Homo sapiens: one gene and its partners. The protein of the gene in region 4 purifies or fractionates together with the protein of the main gene of each other region. This does not show direct contact. Each region holds a gene or a part of one and is shown on either strand. Other genes may lie near its edges.

What was found.
Region 1: the proteins of TEK (region 4) and PSMB7 purify together in Homo sapiens (affinity purification with mass spectrometry; one large-scale study listed by BioGRID and IntAct). This does not show direct contact.
Region 2: the proteins of TEK (region 4) and RTN3 purify together in Homo sapiens (affinity purification with mass spectrometry, with the first as the bait; one large-scale study listed by BioGRID). This does not show direct contact.
Region 3: the proteins of TEK (region 4) and GARS1 purify together in Homo sapiens (affinity purification with western blotting; one study listed by BioGRID). This does not show direct contact.
Region 5: the proteins of TEK (region 4) and HPRT1 purify together in Homo sapiens (affinity purification with mass spectrometry; one large-scale study listed by BioGRID and IntAct). This does not show direct contact.
Region 6: the proteins of TEK (region 4) and HEATR3 purify together in Homo sapiens (affinity purification with mass spectrometry, with the first as the bait; one large-scale study listed by BioGRID). This does not show direct contact.
Region 7: the proteins of TEK (region 4) and NUDT12 purify together in Homo sapiens (affinity purification with mass spectrometry; one large-scale study listed by BioGRID and IntAct). This does not show direct contact.

What each region holds. Positions count from the first base shown.
Region 1 is NC_000009.12:124,398,023-124,402,631, forward strand, and holds part of PSMB7 (proteasome subunit beta type-7 precursor), read right to left. Parts: intron 1-4,609. UniProt on the Homo sapiens protein: Component of the 20S core proteasome complex involved in the proteolytic degradation of most intracellular proteins. This complex plays numerous essential roles within the cell by associating with different regulatory particles.
Region 2 is NC_000011.10:63,756,695-63,760,745, reverse strand, and holds the end of RTN3 (reticulon-3), read right to left. Parts: intron 2,591-4,051; coding exon 2,545-2,590; coding exon of another isoform or gene 2,355-2,544; 3' UTR 864-2,354; downstream 1-863. UniProt on the Homo sapiens protein: May be involved in membrane trafficking in the early secretory pathway. Inhibits BACE1 activity and amyloid precursor protein processing. May induce caspase-8 cascade and apoptosis.
Region 3 is NC_000007.14:30,600,712-30,605,320, forward strand, and holds part of GARS1 (glycine--tRNA ligase isoform 1 precursor), read left to right. Parts: intron 1-347; coding exon 348-489; intron 490-2,322; coding exon 2,323-2,411; intron 2,412-2,784; coding exon 2,785-2,861; intron 2,862-4,609. UniProt on the Homo sapiens protein: Catalyzes the ATP-dependent ligation of glycine to the 3'-end of its cognate tRNA, via the formation of an aminoacyl-adenylate intermediate (Gly-AMP).
Region 4 is NC_000009.12:27,223,754-27,228,087, reverse strand, and holds part of TEK (angiopoietin-1 receptor isoform 1 precursor), read right to left. Parts: intron 1-4,334. UniProt on the Homo sapiens protein: Tyrosine-protein kinase that acts as a cell-surface receptor for ANGPT1, ANGPT2 and ANGPT4 and regulates angiogenesis, endothelial cell survival, proliferation, migration, adhesion and cell spreading, reorganization of the actin cytoskeleton, but also maintenance of vascular quiescence.
Region 5 is NC_000023.11:134,473,136-134,477,744, forward strand, and holds part of HPRT1 (hypoxanthine-guanine phosphoribosyltransferase), read left to right. Parts: intron 1-223; coding exon 224-330; intron 331-2,045; coding exon 2,046-2,229; intron 2,230-4,609. UniProt on the Homo sapiens protein: Converts guanine to guanosine monophosphate, and hypoxanthine to inosine monophosphate. Transfers the 5-phosphoribosyl group from 5-phosphoribosylpyrophosphate onto the purine.
Region 6 is NC_000016.10:50,095,861-50,100,469, reverse strand, and holds part of HEATR3 (HEAT repeat-containing protein 3), read right to left. Parts: intron 241-4,609; coding exon 97-240; intron 1-96. UniProt on the Homo sapiens protein: Plays a role in ribosome biogenesis and in nuclear import of the 60S ribosomal protein L5/large ribosomal subunit protein uL18 (RPL5). Required for proper erythrocyte maturation.
Region 7 is NC_000005.10:103,547,583-103,550,909, forward strand, and holds the end of NUDT12 (NAD-capped RNA hydrolase NUDT12), read right to left. Parts: coding exon 3,279-3,327; 3' UTR 1,273-3,278; downstream 1-1,272. UniProt on the Homo sapiens protein: mRNA decapping enzyme that specifically removes the nicotinamide adenine dinucleotide (NAD) cap from a subset of mRNAs by hydrolyzing the diphosphate linkage to produce nicotinamide mononucleotide (NMN) and 5' monophosphate mRNA.

The DNA of each region.
Region 1 (4,609 bases), about 97 Mb from region 4:
CAGGGCGTGGCTAATTATAGGCACACGCCTGTAATCCCAGCTACTTGGGAGGCGGAGGCAGGATCACTTGAACCCAGGAGGTGGAGGCTGCAGTGAGCCAAAATCGAGCCACTTAACTCCAGCCTGGGCAACAGAGTGAGACTCCATCTCAAAAAAAAAAAAACCACCAAATTTTAGCAATTCTGAGTTCTCTCTCAATACCCAACTCCTCACTCCCTCGAAAGGAAAGGGTAAAGAAGGCAGGGAGGGGAGGGGTGAAAGAAGGTTAGGGAAAGAAAAAAGAGACAAAACAACAAAAATCAAACTCAGATTAGGAAGAAAGCCAGCCCTGCACAGCTACGACCACGGAACAATGGCTGAAAGAAACTAAGAGAGCCACAGAGACAAAGCCCAGGCGAGTACAAAACCGTGATCTTACATTCTCTGTAAAGAGCTCCTCTTCACAATGGACTTGGATTGGAAAGAAACAAAAAGTAAAAATCACGTTGTTTTTGGGTAGTAAAATTGTGGAGATATATATGCATATATATAGTTTAATTTCCTTTGCTGCAATAAGGCTGTTTCAGTAAATACTGTTTTCAACATGCAGGACAGAGAACCTATGCAGAGAACAGTCAAAAATACAAAATCCAGTAAGTGCCCTTCGGGAATCTGTATAAATATTTTTAGTATTCAGAAGCAAGGCTTAATAGCTAAGTGAAATCACATCTGTAGGATGATAAAATCACAGCAGCTGTGTTGTACTGGGGCTTGCCAGAGATGGAAGACAAGGGTTCAAATCCCAGCTTTGTCACTTATGGGGCTGAGTGACACTAGGTAAGTTGCTAAATCTCTCTAACTTTCAGGTTTCTCGTCAGTAAAATAGCAATAATAGCATCCCTTACACTGAATTTTAACTGAAAATAATGTGCCAGCACCCAGCAGACTCTGGCACAGAGACATTCCCATAAATATGCTTTAAATTCAAAATAATACTAAGCTTTAACCAAAAAAAAAAAAAAAAAAGTAAAAGGACCTGTCACATTTACAACACTTTACAGCTAAACTGGGACCACACAAATGGAACACAATCTAAACCAACTGCATTCCAGGGGTGCTGCAAACTGCTAGTTCACAAACAATGAACAGCGGCTAAGGTTTCTAACACTAAGTTTCAGACATTCTTTAGCACAAACAAGTTGGAGAATCAGAAAATTAATTCACCATCAAATATTCACTGAGTTGCACAGGGCTCCGTGAGACCCTGAGAGTGAGGCACAGAAGCTGCTCTCAGAGGTCTAGAATTGTGCAGGGGCAGGAGGGACAATGCCTAGGGGAAGCAAAGTGGGGCCAAGGCGGGAGTCCTGGGATCCTGCTTCACTCCTGGCAGGGACTTGCTAACTCCGCCAGGGGCAGCCAGGAGGGAATGGCTTCTGGGCCACACTCAGGATGAGGAGGAGGAACACTCCAGGCAGAAAATGTGTTTCTGAAAGGAGGCAGCAACAGCTGTTAGGCTCTCTTCAGAGGAGGGCGAGGGGGCTGCTGCCACTGAAGCCCAGGGCACAAGGGAAGGAAGAACAGGAAATGAGATGAGAAAAAGGGCCTAGAGCCCAACTGAAAAGGGAGATGGCCCCAAATGAAGGCGTGACTGCAACACTGCAGCCAAGAGCCGCAAGGAGCTGGCGCTGAGGAACGCCAGGAGAGAATGACGACAGAAACCCAGGATGTGGCCCAGGGGTTAGCTGCTGTCTGAGAGGTCTCTGTAATGACAGTGGCCATCCCTACCGCCACCACCACTGGATTCGTCCTCACCCTCAACATTTCTGGCCAGGATGCAAGCTCCCTCCCTGCCCCAGGCCTCTCACGCCACTGCTCCCCACAGCTGTCAGCTGCTCCTTCTAACAAGCGAACCTAATCCTCTCATTCCCTGGCTTGAAAGAGCAGGAGACCTCCAGGACAAAATCAAAACAGCTCTGCCTGCAGCGTCTGGACCCCCGAGGCCTGCTTTCCAGCCTTGCCTCTGCTCCAAACTCCCAACATCCATCCCTCTTCCACCCTCCCCATCTTTGCTTCTGCTGCACCCCCTGCATGGGTCCCTTGCCCCACCCCCACTCACTGCTCCTGCCGCACCCATGCAGCAAACTCTGGCCTTTCAGTGCTTAACCACACGGAGCCCTTGTGCACCACAGGCCTGAGGTCTATCCCTCGGGGGTAAGGGGTGCATTGCAAATTCCTACTCATCCCTCAGGCGTTTAAGTGTTCTTTCTTCCCACTTTCACCCATCAGACTGGCAAAAATACTCAGCATCCGTGAGGTGGTGGGAGACAAGCGTCCTTGTATTCTCTAGTGGGAGTATAAACTCGTGCCAGCTTTTTGGACAGCAATTTGGCAATAGCTCTCAAAAGGTAAAATGCACTGTCCCTTTTCTGGGCTGCCCAGCAGCTGTATTTCCTGCCTCTGTCCGGAGAATTCCACTGCCATCTGAGCTGAGGCTGAGCTTCACCAATCAGAAGCACCCACCTTCCCCATGAGGAACTCTCTGGTGGTGGAAGGGATGGCAGGAAGGCTCAGTTCTGTGGCAGCCAGGGTCCGGCACCAGCTGTGCCCGCAGCATAGACTGAGACACTGTTCTTGGCCCCAAACCCAGTTCTTGCCCTCCCAACTACATTGTGAGCCACCTGCTATACTTTTCTCAAAAATCCCTCTCTTCCTTAAATCATCCAGTGACTCAACTGCTTGCAACAGAGAATTCTGGCCGAAACGTGTACACCTTAATCCAGAAATTCCACTGCTAAGAATTTATCTAAATGAAGTACGTATTTATACAAGTAGACCAAGACACATTTGTTACCAAAATATGAAAAACAAGATGTTCATCAGAAGAAGAATGGGTCAGCAAGCATGGTGTAGCCACATAATACAATTCTGTACAGCTTGCTATTATTACAGAAATTCTATAGGCCCACGTAAGCTGATATAAACACTTCTTCAAAACGAGTTAATAGTAAGGGAAGAATATTATGTATAGCATGAGCTCATTTGTGTGTTTTTTTTAAAGGGGTAACTAGATGACAGAGAAGGAGATACGTGAAAGTTTATCATAACACATTTTCTGGAAAAAAATACAAACAATTCTTAACAGTGGTTACTCTGGAGGGATGTGAAGGAGACTTTTCTTATAGTTCTTTGTCCCACTTGAATGTTCTGTCATGTTCATAAATTATGTTCAGTAGAAAATGCTTGAATGTCACTTGCTCAGAAAGGACTACACAAACACCCACCAGCCACACACTCCTTCCTATTATCCTCTCTAATGACTGTTCTTTTCCTCTGGGGCACTTATCACAATGCATTCTTCTAGGTTCATGTGAATTTACCTGTCTAATACCTGTCTCCCTCACAAGACTATAGGCTCTGAGGCAGACGCTGTGTTAACCACTAATCTTCCCAGCTCCTAGCAAAGTGCTCCGCACTAGTGATGCTTAATACACATCAGACAAATGAATGAAGAGATCCAATCCTCCTTCTAAGACTCGGCTCAAGTGAAGTTCTTCCTGAATTATCCCAGCTTGGAAGTGACCTTTTCTCCCTTGGGTCCCCTCCTGCCCTCGTCAGTAGGTACATCTGTCTCCCCCATTAGACTGAGTATCTGAGGACAAAGACCCTGATATTCACTTCTATCTGTGCTGCCTGCTATAGTGCCTTTACACAGAAGGCACTCACTAAAGAGCTGATGAGGCCGGGTGCAGTGGCTCACACCTGTAATCCTAGCACTTTGGGAGGCAGAGGCCGGCAGATCACGAGGTCAGGAGTTCCGTATCAGCCTGGCCAACACAGTGAAATCCCCTCTCTACTAAAAATACAAAAATTAGCTGAGCATGGTGGTGCATGCCTATAGTCCCAGCTACTCGGGAGGCTGAGGCAGGAGAATCACTTGAACCCGGGAAGCAGGGGTTGCAGCGAGCAGAGATCATGCCACTGCACACCAGACCGGGTGACAGTGCGAGACTCAGTCTCAAAAAAAAAAAAAAGCTGATAAATGAGTGGAGGAACAAACAAGACCTCAAAGTAACAATTTACTTGGGTATTAAAATCAGATGTTACTGATGTCTCATTCTCCTTAATCTGGCATTTTAGGGCAGCAAAACCAGTCTGTGTGGAGTCAGTGGTTTCTAAATAGAATTATTCTATAAACTCAAGAGCTGTGGACCCATCACCCGGAACTCAAATGAGACTTGGACAGACAGGAGGTCACTCTTGGCCAGGAAAAAGCACAAAGTTGGGCGGCAGAAGTAAAATGGGCAGACACAAAGCTGTTTACCTACTCACTTTCAACAACTTTTCCTAATTCAGCTTTATGCTCATGACACAAATTACCACAGTTCACTGGCAAGAGAAACCAATTTTCCCATTTTACAAATGAAGCTGCTTTGTATCAATGTCAAACTTCTTAAATTTGATGACTTTATCAAGGTGACAGAAGAGAACATCTTGAAGGATTCAGAGGTGAAAGGCTGTGGTGCCTGCTATTTACCCTCAAATGGTTCCCCACGCACACGAAACAATGATAGGAATAACAATGTGTGTGTGAGAGGCAGAACACATGTGTCAAAATGCTAACAACTGACAC
Region 2 (4,051 bases), on a different chromosome or scaffold from region 4:
CTGAAGTGCCGGGCACCAGTGAAAGGGAAGGGCTGCGGTAGTGATTCCATTGATTCCTGCTTTGATGGAAGTTATGGCCTCACAGGTTAGACGTTGCAAGTTGAGTTGGCCCTCTTGCCTAGGTGTGCCTCCTTGCCTTGGGATTCTGACATGAACAGGTGAAGTCTCTTCATGATTTTTTTTGTTGTTGTTGTTAATGGTATGCTTGCTATTATGGCCAATATGTAAATGTTACTCTGAATACATATTTATATACCATGTTACTTAGTGACATTATTCAAACATTTGTATGCGTATTTGTGAAATTGTTTGCATCAGTCATTTAAAAAATATTTCAGCCTAAGTTTTCTAAGAGGTATGTTGAATACATTTTTAAAAGCCAGCTTAAGGGTCACAGCAGCCTTAGTTTAGGAGAAGAGCTAATCACAGGTGACCACTCAAGTTCTTTCAATGAAGACCTGATGATGTATTTAGTTCCCATTTTCCACGGTGATTGACTCAATTTAAGTGTATTGTGGCTATATGTAATTTACAGGCTGCTTTGCGTTGCAGGTGGGAAAATCTCCCAGGCTGGTGTGAGGCTGAACTGGGGTAAAAGACCCCCTGACCCCTCCTCATTCTTCTAAGGTCACCACCTCTTAGAGGGTCTCTTATTTTCTTTCAGAGATCAAATGCACAGTTATGCTGTACAACTAAATTCTGCAGTCTTGGGAATCCTTACGAGTACCAACTATTAGTCACTTTTTAAAGTCCCCAAAGTGGAGTGAGGATAGGGGGAGTGGAAGCAGTGTTTGGTTCTTACTTTACCCAAACTGTGTATAAAGAATAAAGTTAGCAGAATGATGCCACAGTCATTGTTTGTGTTTTTTTTTTTTTTATTAATACCACATCAATTTGAAATTTTACAGGAACCAAGATTCAAGCTCCTTAGGTGCTACTGTATTTTTATGTTGCACGCACAGACACGTACACACAGTTTCATTAGTAATTTTTCATCTATAGGTTTTTCTTAAAAAAAAAAAAAAATCCTGTGTGGCACAAAGATCTCTTCAATTATCTAAACACAGCAGCAACAAAAGAAAAGAACTGGATGTGGCACTTCCACTGCAGAAGGTCCTTTGGAGGGGAAGCCCAAAAAGACAATCACTGACTTCCTGGGAGGGCAGAGGATGAGGATGGAGAATGCACTTCCTACTAGGACATGAAACCAGTTAAAACACTCAAAGGGGGCTAAGAAAATAAGATGGAGTAAGGCAAGGGTACCTTTTACCCATCCAAATTCCTAACTAATTTTTCCAAGACACGTAGACAATTTCCTTCCACTACTTTTTGCAGCTGCCGTACTTTGGGACCATCAAATATCATAGCCCTTACTTTAAACTCGCCAGTGCATATTCCCTCTGAAGGATCATGACTATGAGTGAGAACCTGAAGGAACTCACAGATGATTTTTCTTTCAAGTTCGCTGAATTCTCATATTGAAGGTGAAGAAAAAAACTTGCCCCCAAATGGGAATCGGAGATTTGAATCTCGGGAAAAGATCAAGAAAAAAAGGCTTTCTGTATTTCACCTCTTGAGAATGTTCCCCCCCAGACTGAGATAGGATCACAAAAACTCAATAACTGAGGAGCCCACATGCAGGTTATTTTTTTCTCTAACAAGTTTACAGCAGTGCACAGCAGTTACAGACATTTATTTTATAGTAAGAAAAGTACAACCTTATTTATTAAACTTGAGGTGGGCAGGGGAGAGGGAGGAAAGCACATTCGGGAACGAGTTCTCAAACTAATGCTCAGAACCGGTGTCCAGTGACGTAGAAACCACTTTCCCAAATGGCGGAGCCTTTCCTTCCCTGGGGATAGTGGCAGAGGGAGTGACCGCCACCGCAGCATGCCTGCTGACTCCCTCTCAGTCCCACTTTCCATTTCTATTCTTTTTTATCAGATGGCATTCTTGGAATCAGGAATTATCACTATCACCTATAAGTTATTTATCAAGTTGATAGTTAAATCATTAAAGAAAAGGAGTATCAGGGGTAGCTGCTCACATTGTGGGGCAGGAAGATAGGATTTGAGGGCTGCAAAAAAAAACCAAGGAAGGTATCACACTCCTGTCCCCAAATAATTTTTTCATAAGTTAATCATGACTTCTTAAGGGCAAAACTATAATGGATAGCTGAGTAAGACTAGTGCTGAAAACTGGACAGAAGGACCCAGAGGTGTTCTTTCATTTTCTCTCTTACCTCCAATCTTTCCCCTTTCAAGCTACAGGTAAAGGCTCTACCACCATTAAGGTATTGACTTATCCTATGAATTTGATTCTTTCTTCTTCTGAGTTCTAAGATAGTTCTTTTATCAGTCCATCAATTTTTGTGCTTGATACTGAGGGTTAAAGGGAAAGGATGGGAGAAAACACCAAATTAAAAAAAAAGCTTGGAATGCAGGCTCAAGCTGACACTGAGTATTTTCCTTCATAGTACAAGTAACGACGTTATAACTATTAAATGGTGTTTTAGTAACTGTTGCATTTCTGGTTTCCATGTACTTATTCTGCCTTTTTTTTGGCGATTCCAGGGAGTTTTGCTTGGATCCTATTGAGAAAAGGAGGGGAAAAAGAAAGAAAGTGAAAACATTAGCATTTGCTCTAGGTTTTTATTTTAACTGTGATGCTAGAGGACAGTCCTGGACTTGCATAAGCAATGTGAAATGCATTCTCCCGGCTGGGTATGGTGGCTCACGCGTGTAATCCCAGCACTTTGGGAGTCCGAGGCAGGCAGATCATGAGGTCAGGAGTTGAAGACCAGCCTGGCCAATGTGGTGAAACCCTGTCTCTACTAAAAAATGCAAAAATTAGCCAGGCGTGTTGGTGTGCACCTGTAATCCCAGCTACTCAGGAGGCTGAGGCAGGTGAATGAAGGATAATCGCTTGAACCCGGGAGGTGGAGGCTGCAGTGAGCAGACATCGCACCACTGCACTCCAGCCTGGGTGACAGCGAGACTCCATCTCAAAAAAAAAAAAAAAAAGAAAAAAAGAAAAATGTTAACAAATTCAAAGCGTTAGGTTCACAGTATTTGCTATGAATAATTCAAAATAAAAGCAGGGCTCATGCCTGTAATCTCAGCACTTTGTGAGGCCAAGGTGGGAGGATCACTTGAAGCCAGAAGTTAAAGCCTGGCCTGGGCAACATAGTGAGACCCCCATCTCTATAAAAAATAAAAAATTTGCCAGGGCATGGCACATGCCTGTAGTGTCAGCTACTCAGGAGGCTGGGGTGGGAGGATCACTTGGAGCAAGGGAGGTCAGAGGTCAAGGCTGCAGTGAGCTTTCAGCTTGTGCCACTGCACTTCAACCTGGGTGACAGAGTGAGACCCTGTCTCTAGAAAGCAAAACAAAAAAGAAAGAAAAAAGAAAAAAGAAAAAAAATACTGTCCTCTAGGTATGGGGAAAAAAAGTAAAAAGAAGAAAACAACTCTTTGATATAGGGAGTCATAAAGATGTTTGTCAATATTTTATTTCCTGATTTATTAATTGGTTTAAAAAAATGGGAACAGAGATTTGGCAATCTTAGAAAAGACAACTTTGATCCTTAAGTTACTTATTTACTAGAACTTTTGTTTCTGAGAGGGATACGTTTGGCTTAAATGAATACATGTGAAAATAAATGAAGGTGGGGAAGCAACCAATAACTTTTTGGTTTTTTTTTGAGACGGAGTCTCACTGTCACCCAGGCTGGAGTGCAATGGCATGGTCTCTGCTCACTGCAACCTCGCCTCCCAGGTTCAAGCAATTCTCCCTCCTCAGCCTCCTGAGTAGCTGGGACTAAAGTTGCATGCCACCACACCTGGCTAATTTTTGTATTTTTAGTAGAGATGGGGTTTCACTATGTTGGCCAGGCTGGTCTCGAACTCCTGACCTCGTGATCCACCGGCCTTGGCCTCCCAAAGTGTTGGGATTACAGGTGTGAGCCACCGTGCCCAGCCTGTAATGAAGAACATTTAAAAGCCAGTTCAAAAAGGCAGAGTAGCCTATGGTCCTTGCTACTGGAGAAGCT
Region 3 (4,609 bases), on a different chromosome or scaffold from region 4:
AAATTATAGATCATTGTTATCAGATGTGGTGAGAAATTATTTTGTAATTTTTACGGCAGAAAACTGTAATCTGCTTTTTCATTCTGTTCTCTAAGGGGGAACTTTTGTTGTAGATTTTGGGCTAGTCCTACTTGAAATTACAAATATAGAATTAGTAAATGGCGTAAGAGCTTTTTTATTTTACTTCCATCAGCTAGCTGAAAGTAAGGTTCTTCAGTATTGAGGGATTTGCATTGTTGACTTGAATACACTTTTAGGGAGTATAGGTATCAGTTTCTCATGTCTCCTTGCCTTCATTTGTTCAGAGTAACAAGGTAAAGTATGTGTTTTCCTCTCATATTCTATAGGTGTTAGTGGTCTGTATGACTTTGGGCCAGTTGGCTGTGCTTTGAAGAACAATATTATTCAGACCTGGAGGCAGCACTTTATCCAAGAGGAACAGATCCTGGAGATCGATTGCACCATGCTCACCCCTGAGCCAGTTTTAAAGTGAGATCTTACTTTGGAGTGGGGGTATCCTACTTTAAATAAAATAACTTATTAAATTATTTAATATACTTATCTAAATAACTTCCTGATTATAAAGAACTACTCATTTCATGTAGAAAATCTGAAAAATATGGAAAAGCAAAGAAATGTATACCTTCTGCTCACAGATAGCTATGTTAAGATGATTGTGTTTGTCCTTCCTGTTTTTTCTGTACGTCCCTATGTATTTCAGTGTTAGCAGTACACTGCTTATTTTCATGTAATATTGATGAACATATACTCATATCATTAACTATTCATCTAAAGCATTTTTAATGATAGCATAGTATTCTGTTTTATGGAAGTGCCATAATATGTTAGTTTGTGCCATATTGAAAGCATTAAAGTGTTTCTCATTTTTGACTGCACCGAATATCTTGATAGATGGATTTTTGGGTATATCCTTGATTATTTCCTTAATACAAGTTCTGAGCAAAGGTATACTTGTAGAGATTTTCAGTTAAATACTATTTGTTTTAAAGTTTCAATGCAGAAACTTAGATTATTCCTACCAACGTTATTGAAAGTAGGGCAGAATTTCCTTTTTTTGTGTGTGTGAGATGGAGTCTTGCTCTGTCGCCCAAGCTGGAATGCAGTGGCTTGATCTCGGCTCACTGCAAGCTCTGCCTCCCAGGTTCACGCCATTCTCCTGCCTCAGCCTCCCAAGTAGCTGGGACTACAGGCACCCACCACCACGTCTGGCTAATTTTTTTTTTGTATTTTTAGTACAGACGGGGTTTCACCATGTTAGCCAGGGTGGTCTCGATCTCCTGACCTCGTGATCCGCCCGCCTCGGCCTCCCAAAGTAGGGCAGAATTTCAGAATGTGAAACTGAAAGGAATTCTTTTATTTATTTATTTATTTTTTGAGATGGAGTCTCGCTCTGTCCCCCAGGCTGGAGTGCAGTGGGGCGATCTCTGCTCACTGCAAGCTCCGCCTCTCGGGTTCACGCCATTCTCTTGCCTCAGCCTCCAGAGCAGCTGGGACTACAGGCACCTGCCACCGTGCCTGGCTAATTTTTTTGTATTTTTAGTAGAGACGGGGTTTCACCATGGTCTCGATCTCCTGACCTCGTGATCCGCCTGCCTCGGCCTCCCAAAGTGCTGGGATTACAGGCGTGAGCCACTGCGCCCGGCCTGAAAGAGGAATTCTTGCCATTTTGTAACTCGTCATTATTCATTTAAGGTTGACTGGTGGAGAGCTAATTTTTACTATTGGCATCCGTTAGGTTCTCTTAATAATTTCAGCCAATGAAGAGGAGGAATTCTGAATGATGGCTCTATAAGATCAGGACTACCTATCATTTTAGCTACTTGTTCCACCAATAGGAACTTTGTAGAGATAATACCAATGTCAGTACAGGTTTCAGTGGCAGAAAACACTTCCCTTAAGGTTCAATGTCTATACTGAGCTGCCATGAATTCTTAACTAGTCAAATTCCCAGTGATTTTGGCCTTTGCTTAGATCACTAATAATAATGGCATAGGCATGGATTAATTGATCCTGAAGAATAGTACAGACTTTATGACAACTTGTAGAAAAGAATTGTCTTTTTATTGTCTAGTTAATGTCTTCTTTCTTATGGGAAGGAAGAATGTGGGAGAGGGTGAGAAATAGATTTGAGGAAGAATTTTCTCTGGCATCCATTACTGTCATGGATACATCATTACTATAGATATGGGAGCTTCCATCTTTGAGATGGATATAAATATTGATGGGGAATTATCTTATAAGGTAATATCTATGTGTAATTTGTATGAGAATGACAAATTGGGTTGGCATTTGTTAATTTAGGACCTCTGGCCATGTAGACAAATTTGCTGACTTCATGGTGAAAGACGTAAAAAATGGAGAATGTTTTCGTGCTGACCATCTATTAAAAGGTGAGGTTCTTCATCTCCTTCAGGTAGGATTGATCAAAATAAAAGGTTTAAACTTTCTCTCAGATGTCTTTCATTAAATTTTTTATTGAGGCATAACATTCAAAGAGCAAAGTGCACAGATCTTAAGTATATAGATCAAGTCCTTTATTTTTTAAAAAAGTTATATGTAGATAATTAGTTATATACAGATAATTTTTCTAATTAGCAAATGAATCAAGACAATACCATGACTGCTGTTGTAAAATCAACTGTGGGATTCATGTAAATTAAGAACTTTATGCTTGGATTTACTTTTTAATTGTCTAGCATTGAAACTGAAAAGTGCATTGTCCTTTTTCCCATTGATTGATATATGTCAACACTGTTCTTACAGCTCATTTACAGAAATTGATGTCTGATAAGAAGTGTTCTGTCGAAAAGAAATCAGAAATGGAAAGTGTTTTGGCCCAGGTGAGTACTCTAGAGATGTTATCAGAGTAACCTAGGTGGTCGCTGTCCTTCTTTCAGTGTTTAATGACTGTTGCATTTCCCATTATGCTGACCCTGGCCACATTGTAATGAAGCAGAGGTTAATTCTGTCCTGTATAGCGTCTCTTTTTTTGCATTTTTATTTTCTTCTCTCTTTTGTGACTAACCCTTTATTTCAGCCCAAACTAACAAGTCCGTGTTAATAGGCATTCAATTTGTCTGACCTTGGAAACTACTTTTCTGGATTTAATAGCTAAAACCACAGGAGTGACTGATGATGGGTAGTGTTCAGCACTGGTGTGGAGACTTCGGGGCAGATAACTTGATGAGCACTTTCTCACTGGCTACTTGATCTGCCTCTGCTTGGACCCTGATTTCATGCTATTATTCTTAGAACCTCATGAGCAGGTCCTGACTTTTCTGTCCTTGCTTTTCTCAGTTTGCCTATAGGCCTAAAGTTTTATAATTTGTATAATATTTAAGCTGACAAATTTTAGAGAAGACAAAAAAGAGACCACAGAGATAATTTATTCTGACCTTTTACCAATTGCAGGAATACTTTCTATATTAGAAGTAGTTCTTATCCTTTTGTTGGGTCACAGACCACCCTAAGAATGTGATCAAAACTGCACGTCTCCCTGGGAAGATGCATGTGCTCATGTATATATGTTGCTGGTGTCTCACCTCATCTGTTGGCTATTCCGTTTAGGCAAAGTACATTTCTCCAACACCATGTTTAGTCATGAGGTCTACTGAGGCTCACCTCTTAAATTTTATTTACTTCCTTGGGCAAAAAACAAAAAACCAATACTGTGATTATACCTATTTTCTTTACACCGATCTCTCTCTCTCTCTCTGCCTGAATATAGAACTCCCTAATATGTTGTTTTTCATGGGAATTACTGGATACTTTTCCACTGTTGTCCTAATTTTTTTTTTAGCATGCTTTTTTTCTCTGTGATAGTTAACTTTCCAACATAGCTAAAATAATTTCTCCTTCTTCATTTACATTGAAAACTTTCTTAATTTGGCTGTTGAATCATCTGCTGATTTATTTTGATACTTGTGGAGTGTAATTTTATCCCTTGCTTGAAGCTCATTGTTTTAGTAATTACTCATGGTTTAGAAAATTATTTCTTACATTTTGATACTGTTGAAGCCACACGTTCATCTCATTTTCTTATCCAAAGGCATGCCCTTTATTAGAAAAAATGGAAAATGCCTCTAAGTATCCCTAAAATTTTCCATTCAGAATTTTAGATTTACTGAGGTTTTGTGTATATGTTTTTGATCTTAACAGTATTATTCATTTCCAAGTACGTTGTCAGAGTTGGGAAGTAACTAGTTGATTTGACAAGTCAATTTATTGTTTGAGCATTGGCCTTCTCTCTTATTTCAGATCTGTGTTCTAGGAGAGCAATTTGTTTTTTGACTTGCCATATCAGATGCATGTACAGCTGTCAATATAATCTTCAATGAAAAGTAAGGGACCCATGGGAAATGGTGTAGCACTCAGAAATGGCCCTGGTGGATTCACTGGCTGAAAGCCCATCTGTTGCTTAAGCACAGAGTAGCGTTTTCTGCACCTTAGTGTCTGACTCCTTTTCAGCTTTATGAAGCATCATTGTTTCTTTAAAAGGCCCTGATTCACCTTCTGTGGTAGGAAGACCTCTACTCCTATTATGTGGATTTAACAGCTCAGAACGAATTCTTTTGTTTCTCTTCTCTGT
Region 4 (4,334 bases):
TACAGCCCCTAGGAAGTTTCTATGAGGACTCCCACCTCCCTAAGCCAGTCTCATTTCAACTCCTCATAGATTTAGTTCCTACCCTCGGTACTGTTTCTGCAGGACCTTGGTCTCAGCTATTGCAATCATCTAGAAAGAACTGGGTATGTGTCTAGAGCAGCATTTGCCTTGGAATGCTGCATATTTCAAAATGTTAGTGTCTCTTAAAGGGCCCATGCTCAAACTTGTAAAATGCCACCCACATAAAGTCCCTTTAAGAGGCAGGACTTTTAGAAGCACTGTCATTAAAAACAAAAAAATGCCTGTTTAACCAGGTGCTATGGACTGAATGTTCATGCCACCCAAAAATCATGTGTTGAAACCATGTGATGGTGTTTGAAGGTAGGTCCTTTGGGAGGTGATCAGGTCATGAGGGTAGAACCCTCATGAATGGGATTCGTGCTCTTACACAAAAGGCCTCAAAGAGCTCTTTTGCCCCTAGTGCCACGTGAGGACACAGCAGAAAGATGGCCATCTATGAGCTAGGAAATGGCTCATGGCCACCAAATCTGCTAGCGCTTTGATCTTGGATTTCCCAGCCTTCAGAACTGTGAGAAATACATCTCTGTTGTTTATAAGCCACCATGTTTATGGTATGTTGTTACAGCAGCCGGAAATGACTAAGACAACAGGTTTAACACAAAGTTTCCAAAGTAATTGACCGCAGAACTCCTTTCCCCTTGCATCATGTATTTATATCTTGCACAACACGTGAAAACATAGTTTGGGAAACACTGACCTAAGACAGTGCTTACTCAGTTGTGCTCAGAACTACTCTGTTATTAAAATGCAGAATTCTGGAACCTGCCCTAAACTTACAGAATCAATGACTGACAGTGGGGACCAAGAGCCCACATGCTGAACAAATGACTCTGGGGAACCTTATGTGCATGGAAGGCTATCAACCATTGGCTTAGGGTGTCACAGATCCCAGAACAGCTTACACTTTAACATAAGTTTCTTAAAGACTAAAAAATCTTCTCACCCCTTATGAAGTGAATCTCAAAAGGTGGAATTTTAGGGACTGTCTAGTGATGGTCAACTATGTCCAGGTTTTTCCAGGATGGTATGTATGCTTCTTGCTCCAGTGAGATTAACACCCTCCTTCACTCTTAGAAGTAGCTCCATTTAGACAATAAATTATCTGCTCAACCTAGAGCCTTGCAGTCTTCAAACATGCCAGTTAGCTTCTACCACGGATAGTTCTGGGAATGCTGGTATCACTACAGTTCATTATTCTTACCCTTGGAATAAATCTTACTTTTGAAAGTAATCTTAGCAGAAGCAAGGTTCTAGGCAAGAAAATGTATCTTTATTTTTTTATTATTATACTTTCAGTTCTGGGATACATGTGGAGAACATGCAGGTTTGTTACATATGTATACAAGTGCCATGGTGGTTTGCTGCACCCATCAACCTGTCATCTACATTAGGTATTTCTCCTAATGCTATCCCTCCCCTAGCCCCCACCCCCCGATAGGCGTGTGATATTCCCCTCCCTGTGTCCATGTGTTCTCATCCTTAAACTCCAACTTATGAGTGAGAACATGCAATGTTTGGTCTTCTGTTCTTGTGCTAGTTTCCTGAGAATGTTGGTTTCCAGCTTCATCCATGTCCGTCCAAAGGACAAGAACTCATCCTTTCTTATGGCTGCATAGTATTCCATGGTGTATATGTGCCACGTTTTCTTTATCCAGTTTATCATTGATGGGCATTTGGGTTGGTTCCAAGTCTTTGCTATTGTGAACAGTGCTGCAATAAACATACGTGTGCATGTGTCTTTATAGTAGAATGATTTATAATCCTGTGGGTATATTCCCAGTAATGGGATGGCTGGGTCAAATGGTATTTCTAATTCTAGATCCCTGAGGAATCGCCACACTGACTTCCACAATGGTTGAGCTAATTTACACTCCCACCAACAGTGTAAAAGCATTCCTATTTCTCCACATCCTCTCCAGCATCTGTCATTTCCTGACTTTTTAATGATTGCTATTCTAACTGGTGTGAAATGGCATCTCATTGTGGTTTTGATATGCATTTCTCTAATGACCAGTGATGATGAGCTTTTTTCATGTTTGTTGTCTGCATAAATATCTTCTTTTGAGAAGTGTCTGTCCATATCCTTTGCCCACTTTTTGATGGGGTTGTTTTTTTCTTGTAAATTTGTTGAAGTGCTTTGTAGATTCTGGATATTAGCCCTTTGTCAGAAGGATAGATTGCAAAAATTTTCTCCCATTCTGTAGGTTGCCTGTTCACTCTGATGGTGGTTTCTTTTGCTGTGCAGAAGGTCTTTAGTTTAATTAGATCCCATTTGTCAATTTTGGCTTTTGTTGCCATCGCTTTTGGTGTTTTAGTCATGAAGTCTTTGCCCATGCCTATGTCCTGAATGGTATTGCCCAGGTTTTCTTCTAGGGTTTTTATGGTTTTAGATTTTACGTTTGTCTTTAATCCATCTCGAGTTAATTTTTTATAAGGTGTAAGGAAGGGGTCCAATTTCAGTTTTCTGCATATGGCTAGCCAGTTTTCCCAACGCCATTTATTAAATAGGGAATCCTTTCCCCATTGCTTGTTTTTGTCAGGTTTGTCAAAGATGAGATGGTTGTAGATGTGTGGTGTTATTCCTGAGGCCTCTGTCTTGTTCCTTTGGTCTATATATCTGTTTTAGTACCAGTACCATCCTGTTTTGGTTATTGTAGCCTTGTAGTATAGTTTGAAGTCAGGTAGCTTGATGCCTCCAGTTTTGTTCTTTTTGCTTAGGATTGTCTTGGCTATGCAGGCTCTTTTTTGGTTCCATATGAAATTTAAAGCAGTTTTATCTAATTCTGTGAAGAAAGTCAATGGTAGCTTGATGGGGATAACACTGGGCAGTGTGGCCATTTTCACAATATTGATTCTTCCTGTCCATGAGCATGGAATGTTTTTCCATTTGTTTGTGTCCTCTCTTATTTCCTTGAGCAGTGGTTTGTAGTTCTCCTTGAAGAGGTCCTTCACATCCCTTGTAAGTTGGATTCCTAGATATTTTATTCTCTTTGTAGCAGTTGTGAATGAGAGTTCACTCATGGTTTGGCTCTCTGTTTGTCTGCTATTGGTGTATAGGAATGCTTGTGATTTTTGCACACTGATTTTGTATCCTGAGACTTTGCTGAAGTTGCTTATCAGCTTAAAGAGATTTTGGGCTGAGACAATGGGGTTTTCTAGAAATACAATCATGTCATCTGCAGACAGAGACAGTTTGACTTCCTCTCTTCCTATTTGAATGCCCTTTCTTTCTTTCTCTTGCCTGACTGCCCTGGCCAGAACTTTCAATCCTACGTTGAACAGGAGGGGCGAGAGAGGGCATCCTTGTCTTATGCCGGTTTTCAAAGGGAATGCTTCCAGCTTTTGTCCATTCAGTGTGATACTGGCTGTGGGTTTGTCATAAACAGCTCTTAATATTTTGAGATACGTTCCATCAATACCTAGTTTACTGAGCGTGTTTAGCCTGAGGGGGTGTTGAATTTCCTTGAAGGCTTTTCTCCATCTATTGAGATACATGTGGTTTTTTTCATTGGTTCTGTTTAGATGATGGATTATGTTTATTGATTTGCATATGTTGAACCAGCCTTGCATCCCAAGGATGAAGCAGACTTGATCATGGTGGATAAGCTTTTTGATGTGCTGCTGGATTCTGTTTCCCAGTATTTTATTGAGAATTTTCGCATCAATGTTCATCAGGGATATTGGCCTGAAGTTTTCTTTTTTGTTGTGTCTCTGCCAGGTTTGGGTAACAGGATGATGCTGACCTCATAAAATGAGTTAGGAAAGATCCCTCTTTTTCTATTGTTTGGAATAGTTGCAGAAGGAATGGTACCAGCTCCTCTTTGTACCTGTGGTAGAATTCAGCTGTGGATCCGTCTGGTCCTGGACTTTTTTTGGTAGGTAAGCTATTAATTCTGCCTCAATTTCAGAACTTGTTACTGGTCTTCGACTGGGATTCGACTTCTTCCTGGTTTAAACATAGGAGGATGTATGTGTCCATGAATTTATCCATTTCTTCTAGATGTTCTAGTTTATTTGCGTAGAGGTGTTTATAGTATTCTCTGATGGTAGTTTGTATTTCTGTGGGATCAGTGGTGATATCCCCTTTATCATTTTTGTTGCATCTATTTGATTGTTCTCTCTCTTCTTCATTAGTCTGGCTAGCAGTCTATTTTGTTATCTTTTCAAAAAACTAGCTCCTGGATTCACTGATTTTTTTTGAAGGGTTTTTCATGTCCCTGTCTCCTTCAATGCTGCTCTGATCTTAGTTATTT
Region 5 (4,609 bases), on a different chromosome or scaffold from region 4:
TGCCTCAGCCTCCCAAAGTGCTGGGATTACACGTGTGAACCAACCCGCCCGGCCTGTTGTTTTCTTACATAATTCATTATCATACCTACAAAGTTAACAGTTACTAATATCATCTTACACCTAAATTTCTCTGATAGACTAAGGTTATTTTTTAACATCTTAATCCAATCAAATGTTTGTATCCTGTAATGCTCTCATTGAAACAGCTATATTTCTTTTTCAGATTAGTGATGATGAACCAGGTTATGACCTTGATTTATTTTGCATACCTAATCATTATGCTGAGGATTTGGAAAGGGTGTTTATTCCTCATGGACTAATTATGGACAGGTAAGTAAGATCTTAAAATGAGGTTTTTTACTTTTTCTTGTGTTAATTTCAAACATCAGCAGCTGTTCTGAGTACTTGCTATTTGAACATAAACTAGGCCAACTTATTAAATAACTGATGCTTTCTAAAATCTTCTTTATTAAAAATAAAAGAGGAGGGCCTTACTAATTACTTAGTATCAGTTGTGGTATAGTGGGACTCTGTAGGGACCAGAACAAAGTAAACATTGAAGGGAGATGGAAGAAGGAACTCTAGCCAGAGTCTTGCATTTCTCAGTCCTAAACAGGGTAATGGACTGGGGCTGAATCACATGAAGGCAAGGTCAGATTTTTATTATTATGCACATCTAGCTTGAAAATTTTCTGTTAAGTCAATTACAGTGAAAAACCTTACCTGGTATTGAATGCTTGCATTGTATGTCTGGCTATTCTGTGTTTTTATTTTAAAATTATAATATCAAAATATTTGTGTTATAAAATATTCTAACTATGGAGGCCATAAACAAGAAGACTAAAGTTCTCTCCTTTCAGCCTTCTGTACACATTTCTTCTCAAGCACTGGCTATGCATGTATACTATATGCAAAAGTACATATATACATTTATATTTTAACGTATGAGTATAGTTTTAAATGTTATTGGACACTTTTAATATTAGTGTGTCTAGAGCTATCTAATATATTTTAAAGGTTGCATAGCATTCTGTCTTATGGAGATACCATAACTGATTTAACCAGTCCACTATTGATAGACACTATTTTGTTCTTACCGACTGTACTAGAAGAAACATTCTTTTACATGTTTGGTACTTGTTCAGCTTTATTCAAGTGGAATTTCTGGGTCAAGGGGAAAGAGTTTATTGAATATTTTGGTATTGCCAAATTTTCCTCTAAGAAGTTGAATCATTTTATACTCCTGATGTTATATGAGAGTACCTTTCTCTTCACAATTTGTCTCTTTTTTTTTTTTTTTTGAGACAAGGTCTCTGTTGCCCAGGCTGGGGTGCAGTGCAGCAGAATGATCACAGTTCACTGCAGTCTCAACCTCCTGGGTTCAAGCGATCCTTCCACCTCAGCCTCCTGAGTAGCTGGGACTATAGGTGTGCGCCACCACTCCCAGCTAATATTTTTATTTTGTAGAAACAGGGTTCGCCATGTTACCCAGCCTCCCAAAGTGCTGGGATTACAGGCATGAGCCACTGGCCCAGTTTCTACAGTCTCTCTTAATATTGTATATTATCCAAGAAATTTCATTTAATCAGAACCTGCCAGTCTGATAGGTGAAAATGGTATCTTGTTTTTATTTGCATTTAAAAAAAATTATGATAGTGGTATGCTTGGTTTTTTTGAAGGTATCAAATTTTTTACCTTATGAAACATGAGGGCAAAGGATGTGTTACGTGGAAGATTTAAAAAAAATTTTTAATGCATTTTTTTGAGACAAGGTCTTGCTCTATTGTCCAGGCTGGAGTGCAGTGGCACAATCACAGTTCACTCCAGCCTCAACATCCTGCACTAAAGTGATTTTCCCACCTCACCTCTCAAGTAGCTGGGACTACAGGTACATGCTACCATGCCTGGCTAATTTTTTTTTTTTTGCAGGCATGGGGTCTCACTATATTGCCCAGGTTGGTGTGGAAGTTTAATGACTAAGAGGTGTTTGTTATAAAGTTTAATGTATGAAACTTTCTATTAAATTCCTGATTTTATTTCTGTAGGACTGAACGTCTTGCTCGAGATGTGATGAAGGAGATGGGAGGCCATCACATTGTAGCCCTCTGTGTGCTCAAGGGGGGCTATAAATTCTTTGCTGACCTGCTGGATTACATCAAAGCACTGAATAGAAATAGTGATAGATCCATTCCTATGACTGTAGATTTTATCAGACTGAAGAGCTATTGTGTGAGTATATTTAATATATGATTCTTTTTAGTGGCAACAGTAGGTTTTCTTATATTTTCTTTGAATCTCTGCAAACCATACTTGCTTTCATTTCACTTGGTTACAGTGAGATTTTTCTAACATATTCACTAGTACTTTACATCAAAGCCAATACTGTTTTTTTAAAACTAGTCACCTTGGAGGATATATACTTATTTTACAGGTGTGTGTGGTTTTTTAAATAAACTCCTTTTAGGAATTGCTGTTGGGACTTGGGATACTTTTTTCACTATACATACTGGTGACAGATACCCTCTCTTGAGCTACATCGGTTTGTGGGGAGTCAAAAGTCCTTTGGAGCTAGGTTTGACAAATAAGGTGGGTTAACACTTGTTTCCTAGAAAGCACATGGAGAGCTAGAGTATTGGCGAATTGAAGAAATCCCCCTTTTTTTTTAACACACTTAAGAAAGGGGACTGCAGGTATACTCAAGAGAGTAAGTCGCACCAGAAACCACTTTTGATCCACAGTCTGCCTGTGTCACACAATTGAAATGCATCACAACATTGACACTGTGGATGAAACAAAATCAGTGTGAATTTTAGTAGTGAATTTCATTCATAATTTGATCGTGCAAACGTTTGATTTTTATTACTTTAGACTATTGTTTCTGATTTTATGTTGGGTTGGTATTTCCTGTGAGTTACTGTTTTCCTTTAAAATAGGAATTTTTCATACTCTTCAAAGATTAGAACAAATGTCCAGTTTTTGCTGTTTCATGAATGAGTCCTGTCCATCTTTGTAGAAACTCGCCTTATGTTCACATTTTTATTGAGAATAAGACCACTTATCTACATTTAACTATCAACCTCATCCTCTCCATTAATCATCTATTTTAGTGACCCAAGTTTTTGACCTTTTCCATGTTTACATCAATCCTGTAGGTGATTGGGCAGCCATTTAAGTATTATTATAGACATTTTCACTATCCCATTAAAACCCTTTATGCCCATACATCATAACACTACTTCCTACCCATAAGCTCCTTTTAACTTGTTAAAGTCTTGCTTGAATTAAAGACTTGTTTAAACACAAAATTTAGACTTTTACTCAACAAAAGTGATTGATTGATTGATTGATTGATTGATGGTTTACAGTAGGACTTCATTCTAGTCATTATAGCTGCTGGCAGTATAACTGGCCAGCCTTTAATACATTGCTGCTTAGAGTCAAAGCATGTACTTAGAGTTGGTATGATTTATCTTTTTGGTCTTCTATAGCCTCCTTCCCCATCCCCATCAGTCTTAATCAGTCTTGTTACGTTATGACTAATCTTTGGGGATTTGTGCAGAATGTTATTTTAGATAAGCAAAAACGAGCAAAATAGGGGAGTTTAACTTTAATATTTTCTTTTAAAAAGCATTTCATGTTATAAGATCAATTCTGAGTGGTAGAAATGCTTTGACATTTTATTTCCATTTTCTACTTTTAGTTTTTTTCCTATTTGTTTAAGATCTTAGAGGATTATTAAGCTGAACTCCTCAACTGATAAAAAGCATGACATCTTAAACATAAGCAAAGCATATTTTTAGGTTAATTTTCACATAGAAAACAGTTTATTTTATGTGAAATTCTATGTAGATATACTATTTTTTTGGTATTTATTGATATGTTTATTTTATTTTATTTTATTTTATTTTATTTTATTTTATTTTATTTATTTATTTTTTTTTTTGAGACAGAGTCTCACTCTGTTGCCCAGGCTGGAGTGCAGTGGCATGATCGTAGCTCACTGCAACCTCCACCTCCCGGGTTCAAGCAATTCTTCTGTCTCAGCCTCCCGAGTAGCTGGGACTACAGGTGCCTGCCACTATGCCCGGCTAATTTTTGTGTTTTTAGTAGAGATGGGGTTTCACCTTGTTGGTCAGGCTGGTCTCGAACCCCTGACCTCAGGTGATCCACCCACCTCAGCCTCCCAAAGTGCTGGGATTATAGGCATGAGCCACCGTGCCCGGCCGACATGTTAATTTTTTAAAAAAGGCTTTACTGGGGTATATTTTATATAATATAATAATCACATGTTTTAACTATACAATTCCAAGCTTTTTAGTATATTTATAGGGCTATGCAAGGAAGATATACTGTTAAACAGTAGAAATTGAGAAAGCTCTTCTGATAATATCTCTTGATTTGATGATGGCTCATGCCTGTAATCTCAGTGCTTTGGAAGGCCAAGACAGCAGAATCACTTGAGGCCAGGGGTTCGAGACCAGCCTGGGCAACACAGCAATACCCTATCTTTACAAATAATAAAAATATCTGTTGATTTGAAGTAAAGTTTTTTTTTAAAGACAAGGTCTCATTCTGTCACCCAGGCTGGAATGCAGTAGCAAGATCACAG
Region 6 (4,609 bases), on a different chromosome or scaffold from region 4:
CTTCAAGTCCACACAAGTTTTAAGAAATCCTACACCAACAGTTCTTCTCCCATTTCTAATTATTTAACATGTTAGGTCAGAAGCAAATTGTTTTACCTTAAGAGTTTCAAGTGTACCATCTTCTTTGGCAAGGACGCTGCCAGTGATTCCTAAAATGCTAACGACATTCACTCTAACCCCGACATTACTACTATGAATGCCTGCTTTGCATAATGTCATCAGCTGATCAGGAGTCATGCACTGTTAAAAGAGAAGAGGACAGTATTTATAATGTTAAACTCAATTAATTCTATCAGCATGTGAAAACCGGACTGACAGGAATCTCCTCTATAGGCTACAGGATTTTAAGAGTGACATAAACTCCTGGCAGGTAAGTTACTATTAATATGTATTCCAGTTCTCCCAGACAGAGCTGGTAATTCTGAACTAAGGTGAACCCTGCTCATGTCGGCACTGTTATCTAATATCAAAGGGGCTCCATTTAATTTGATGAAGACTTTCATTCCAGATGTACACACACTAAAGAGAGTCCAATTCCTTTTTAATATTAATGGTAAGAAAAAGGCTTTGAAAGTATAAATAGGATTGTGTGGTTTTAAAAAAATTGGCTGAGTCTATACAAGGTAAGAACTTACTTTGAGATATCTGTATTATCATAATTAAAGACTGTAGAAACCATTACATTATATGGTGCTTCTACCATGTAGTGGATAATTTTCAGTTTAAGGCTGGGCGCGGTGGCTCACGCCTGCAATCTCAGCTACTCAGGAGGCTGAGGCACAAGAAACGCTTGAACCTGGGAGACAGAGGTTGCAGTGAGCTGAGATTGTGCCACTGAACTCTAGCCTGGGCAACAGAGTGAGACTATCTCCTATAAGCAGCAGCACAGTGTAGTGATGAAAGGCTTGGAATCTGGAGCCAGACACAAAGGCTTGGAATCTGGAGATTGAACCCTGGGTTCAAATCCTAGCTTCACTACTTATCACTCGTGTGAGCCCCTACACTAGACTAATGTATTTTTATTTTTTGTAGACATGAAGTCTCACAAAGTTGCCCAGGCTGTTCTTGAACTCTTGGGCTCAAGCAATCCTCCCGCCTCAGGCTCCCAAAGTGTTAGGATTATTAGTATGAGCCACTGCACCTGGCCCTGAACATGGGCTTTGAGTAATTTTCCTTAACCATCACACTGATCCCATAAGCTGCTGCTTACATACCAGGGGAAATCAATAAAAATACTTGATATTCCTATAGGCCCTAGAGTATAAGGTTTTCTGGTCCATCCAACAGCCACATGGCAGGCTATGCATCCCATTACCATTCCTACTTCTTAGAAACTGAGGGTCAAATTATGCTCTTCAAAAAAATTCTTAGCTTTGGAAAGCTGAGGCAAGAGGATCACTCGAGAGCAGGAGTTTAAGACCAGGCTGGGCAACATAGCAAGACCTCATCTCTATTAAAAAACTAAAAAATAAAAATAAAGTATAAAAAAATTTTAAAAGCATTAAGAAAAAAATTATATAAAGAAGCAAAAAGAAATAGTGTTATTGGCAATAACAAGAGCATTGTTATTTTGATACTATTAAGTACATTCCGTAGGATAAAGCAAATAATAGTTTTAATGTCACTACAATTTTAATGTTACTACAGCAAACAATTTTAATATCACTGTATAGCAAATAATTTTAATGTCTTTTAATGTCACTACTACAAAGTACATTCTGTAGGAGAAAGCAAATAATAAAATTTTTGAAAAATATTTTTCTTTCTTTTCTCTAATTTTAATTTTTAAATTATTTATTATTATTATTATTTTTGAAACGGAGTATCGCTCTGTCGCCCAGGCTGGATTACAGTGGCCCGATCTTGGCTCACTGCAAGCTCCGCCTCCTGGGTTCACACCATTCTTCTGCCTCAGTCTCCTGAGTAGCCAGAACTACAGGCACCCGCCACCACACCCGGCTAATTTTTTGTATTTTTTAATAGAGACGGGGTTTCACTGTGTTAGCCAGGATGGTCTTGATCTCCTGACCTTGTGATCCGCCCACCTCGGCCTCCAAAACTGCTGGGATTACAGGCGTGAGCCACCGTGCCCGACCTATTTATTATTATTTTTAAAGCCAGTCAAACTTAGCGTGGGGGGTTGTATACCAACTTCAGTGACACTAATGTTAATAAGTCCTGATAACCCACTACCATCAGACCAGCTGCAAATAAGAATTTTAATGTCACTAATGTATCTTTTTGGGTACAATGTACCTTTTTGGGTACAAATGTATCTTTTTGGGGGATACAAAAAGATAGAAATACAAAATCGAAAATTAAGTAAAAATATTGTACCATTTTTTATTTAAACTGGAAATTATCAGGATAAACTTACTATTTTTGTCTCCTAAAAAAATGCCTATTTCCTAGCTATTTCCACTAAAAAGACCTAGAAACAATGGCAACATGATAGCAATAAGCACTCCACAATTCACTTTCCCCACTAAAGAAATCAGAGCTTCTTGGAGAAGTAACTAATTCCAGGGTTTTTTTTTTTTTTTTTTGAGACGGAGTTTCACTCTTGTCACACTCTTGTCACCCAGGCTGGAGTGCAGTGCAATCTTGGCTCACTGCAACCTCCACCTCCTGGCTTCAAGCGATTCTCCTGCCTCAGCCTCCCAAGTAGCTGGGATTACAGGCGCGTGCCACCACACCCAGCTAATTTTTGAATTTTCAGTAGAGACGGAGTTTCGCCATGTGGGTCAGGCTGGTCTCAAACTCCTGACCTCAAGTGATCCGCCCACCTCAGCCTCCTAAAGTGTTGGGATTACAGGCATGAGCCACTGTGCCTGGCCAGATTCCAGGTTTTAAGCAAGAAAATTACAAATTGAACCTGGGACATCCTATGCCTGGAAGCAAAAGTGATCAAAAACCTAAAATTCTTGTAAAAGAGGCACAGGAGCCAATTTGAAGGGACTCCTACTATCCAAAGATGGGATGAATTTGGCAGCAAAAAGCATGACTATAATGGAATGAAATACAAATATATAAAAAACCCTGAGTTCAAAATGATACTAAAAAAAAAAAAATCACTGGTCACTTATAGAGATTGCTAGGATAGCTATTCTGAAAAAAAAAAAAATCATAGCTAATAAATGTAAAAAAAAAAAAAAGAAAAGACAAAATTAGGGTATCTCTATTCTGCAACCCACTAATGACATAATGGAGCCAGGCAACCACAATCACTGGTTATAAAACCATTATGTGAACCCACTAATTAATCTCAGCATCACTATTTTATAATATCATATGATTTGTGATATAAATATAGGAAATATATAAAGCACTATAAATTATTCTTGCCAAAAAATCTGGACCTGTCTAGATTATTTATTATAAATACAAAAAATAAATAAATAAATAATCTGGACCTGGATCTAATTAAGGCTCTAGACCTAGCTCCCGGCTCACAGGAAACATGGGGGACAGAGGAATGCTGAACGATGCCATCATGATGAGTTGGCCAAATCTGCCAGTGCAGAAAATGCTACGGAACAAAATGAGAGTTTCTTCAATGGGTAAGTGTATGGGGAAAGGAGGGGAGTGAGGGAAATGCTATAGACTAAGAGATTTAAGAATATGAGAATATACTAAAACCACTGAATTGTACACTTTAGTTACTTATTTTTGAGACAGAGTCTCCCTCTGTCGCCCAGGCTGGAGTGCAGTGGTGCAATCTCAGCTCACTGCAACCTCCACCTCCCAGTTCAAGCAATTCTCCCTGCCTCAGCCTTCCAAGTAGCTGGGATTACAGGTGCCTGCCACCATGCCCGGCTGATTTTTGTATTTTTTGTAGAGATAGGGTTTCGCCACGTTGGCCAGGCTGATCTTGAACTCCAGACCTTACGTGGTCCACTGGCCTTGGCCTCCCAAAGTGCTGGGATTACAGGCGTGAGCCACTGCAGCTGGCCTGAACTGTATACTTTAAATGGATAAACTGCATGGTATGTGAATCAAATCTCAGTAAAATTTTTTTTAGAGATAATAAGAGACCAAAATATCAACCAAAAGCAACACATGAACCTTGCTTAGATCCTGATTTGAACAAGCCAACTGTTAAAAGACGTTTTTTTCTTTTTCTGTTTTTTTTTTTTTTTTTTTTTGAGACGGAGTCTTGCTCTATCGCCTAGGCTGGAGTGCAGTGGCATGATCTTGGCTCACTGCAACTTCCGCCTCCCAGGTTCAAGTGATTCTCCTGCCACAGCCTCCCAAGTAGCTGGGATTATAGGAGTGCGCCACCATGCCCAGCTAACTTTTGTATTTTTAGTAGAGACGGGGTTTCACCATGTTGGCCAGGCTGGTCTTGACTTCCTGACCTCAGGTGATCTGCCCGCCTCAGCCTCCCAAAGTGCTGGGATTACAGGTGTGAGCCACCGTGCCTGGCCATGTTAAAATACATTTTTAAGGCAATCTGGGAAAACTGAACTTAGACTGCAGCTGGGAAAACTGAACTCAGAGTGCAAACCAAAGGATAATAAGAAATATCCGTTAATTTGGAGCCTTGGGGTAATGGTACTGGGGTTAAGATTTTTAAAAATTTATTTTTCTGTCAGACATGCATACTGAA
Region 7 (3,327 bases), on a different chromosome or scaffold from region 4:
TGTCTTCCCTATGCCATCCTTATTTTTTAAATGACCTTCCTTTTGACCATTTCTAGTTTTGGGCAAATAAATGGAATTATTTGAAAATCTATCATATATAATAAAATTCACTCCCTCTTTCAGAAATTCTTTTGAATTCTATCCTGATTGTCCTGGAAGGATGGTAGGGTATAGTGTAGGAAAAAAATATTTTTTTAGTATTTAGTTTATGTTCACAAGTAATTCCTCTAATCAATGACTCATTTTGAAGATGCAGGTACTTGGCAACATTATTACCCCTGCCCCAAAATACAGCCTGTCTTATCTGCTCCTGTGGGCTTAAAGCTCTCAAGCATCTGCCCCCACTTTATCAAGCACCCTCCCCGATCTGCACAGAATATCAAACTTCCCTGCCTTTTCCAACCTCTTGGCAACTACTCTTGCTTTGCCTCAGGACCTAGATCTTATATATTTGAAGATAGAGACTCCTAATTTTGCACATTGGATTTATTTTGTCCTACATATTTTTTTTTCTAATAGAGATAACAGCCCCTTTTAACCTCAACAAATACACAAATTTCACTCAATACCCACCACCCATCTCTCTCTCTCTCTCTTTCTCCCCCTCCCTCCCCCCCCCCAGAACCTAATAACTGGGTCTCAGCCCTAATAAAATTTTCACTGTGAAAATTTTACTCTAAATAATTAATGGATTTGTTTTATAGAACATCTTCACCTAATATTTTGTTGTATCCACATTAGCAACACAGTTCCAGGACCAGCTATCTATTGTTGTTATGTGGGATTAATTTGGCTTATTAACAAACTTATTCTTCCTCCTTCCATCTTGGTCTCTCCCTTTGTTATCCTATTATTTTCTGTCTTCAGCCAAATCCCTAACTGGGTCTTTAAAAGAATTTCTCATTTTTCCAACTAAATAAAATATGTGGGCTTCTAACTCTTCATGTTCCATCAACATGTGAAAATATCAAAATCCAACAATTAGCAGTATTAGACAAGTAATAAAAATTAGATATATCGCTTTAAACCTGAAGAACAAAAATTATTGACTTTATATATGTATGTATATATGTAAGTCTGTTTGTATTTGACCCCAAACTATACTTTAAGATTCAAATCAAAGTTTTAAGTCTCCCAAACACAGACACTTTTAAAAAGGCTTTTGCATTTCTTGTACATTATCAATTCGAAACAGGTTAACGACTGAAATCCAGCTTTTCTCATTTTTCAGGACACTTGTCAAAACATGTTAAACACACACACAAAACAAAATAGATTTTAAAAATTTAATGTATTATTACATTCATTTCCAGTAGAATACATTCACGGCACTATCACATCTACTATTCTTTTGAACTGGCCATTCCTTCTATTTACATAGCTTTTCACCTCTCAGAGGTTGGCAATTTAAGAGTTGTTATTAAAATAATAATTTACCTAGATGCTGATTTTTTCCCAAGTAAGGATTAAATATCCAAAACAAAATGTATAACTACACTTGTTGATACTTTATATTCTACTTTCCTATTTTAACATTATGAAAACCTGGAATTTTACAATGTAATCTTAGAATCTGCAAGTATTAAAAGTACATTTAGAGTAAAACTGAATTTCAAGATGCTCTATTTCATAATAATCAAGGTACATTATTTTCCATATACTTATGTAGCTCGAATTTTATTATGTATCTAAATGTCCTCTGTCAGTTTTAATTTGGTTTAAATTCTTGATACCAATAAGCCTTCATCAATTCCTAAGAAAATCACTGCTCATTAGTAAAATAAAGTTTTATCTGACAGTTATCTTTTATTTAAGTTAAATAAATGTTAAGTATCTAAAATTTTAATTAACAATATTTGGTAAATTAAATTTATTCTTATCATTCCTTCTTTTAATTTTGTCTATATATATTTTTAGTAATAGCTTCTAGTTCCTTTTACAGGGAGAATCGTCCTCTGCATTATATAGTACAGACTGTTGTAATTAGTTATGTAACTTTCACTAATTAGGTAAATTCACCTTTCACAATTTCTTTTTCCTTATCTATAAAATAAGGAAAGCTAATTTCATATATTATCCTTAAGGTCTCTTGTAGCTCTAGCATACATTAGTAAAGATGCAAATTATACAAATTTTGATATTCATAAACTATAATAGCTATTAAATCAATTTCAAAATAGCCTTTCAAAATGTGACTTTCTATGTTGCAAAATTGTGAACTACTATGTTTTGCTTTCTCTAGAATCTTACTGATTCAGCTCTAAAATATACTTACTTTGTCAAGGCTTCTTAGAATGTGTTGAAATAAGGTCAAAGCCAAGATATATTTGAGCATAATAAATAGTATTGGTAATGATTATACAATTTTTTGTTAACACAGATACATCACTCATCACAAAATGAAATAAAGCCAATGTTTTAAATTAAATATGTAAATCTGCCTGGGACTTATTTAATATCCGACCTTTGAGGAGAATTCCTTTCAAGTTTAATTTCAGTGCAAAAGCAGAGAATCTTGGTTTGTCTTAATAACAGCTTTAGGTATAAGTAACATATAAGTAGATATGTTAATTAATTTTAGGTCTAAAAGAGAGGTCCCAGATATAATAGTATGCTTTTCTCCTTCCATGAGGGTGTGGTATTGAGATCACTATTAAATTATTAAATTAGAAAATTCTTAACACTGGTCAAATTAGACGAGTGGCGACACTATAACACCTCCACTGCTAGAACAATGGAACCCCCAGGAAAGAGCAAGTGGGACTACAATGGGGAGATGAACAAAAACCATATATTGACAACTTAAAGGTAACAAAAGGACTAAAAAATCAATGCCAGCTAACTCAAGCTAATACAAGCTAAAAATTCATTAAAATTACTTTGATTCATTTCTCAAATCAGGAACTTTCTTCATCATCAGTTTAATGCTTACAAGAGGCACTGAAATTTATGCACATTTCTAGAACATCTTTCCAACATGATGTCTCTTATTAGAAAAATGGTTTTGTGAGATAAAACTGTGAAGGAAGAAAAGAAACCAAGAGAGAAAAAGTTCAGAGAAGACTGACCCAAATTTAACATAATCTGAGGCAATATTGTAAAAATGTGTAAAAATATGAATTTGTGATTAAGACAGAACACTTTGAAAATATTTCGAAAACCCAACATCGTATTTTGTGTTGTGACACTCTCAAGAGTACTGAATAATCTCTAATATCACTTGAGGAATGAGTGTTATTAGAAATTATTAAATAATACTCAAAGCTTAGTTCTTAGATTTAGAGATTAGGATTTATTCTAATCCAGTGTTTGATTAATTGATGTGCA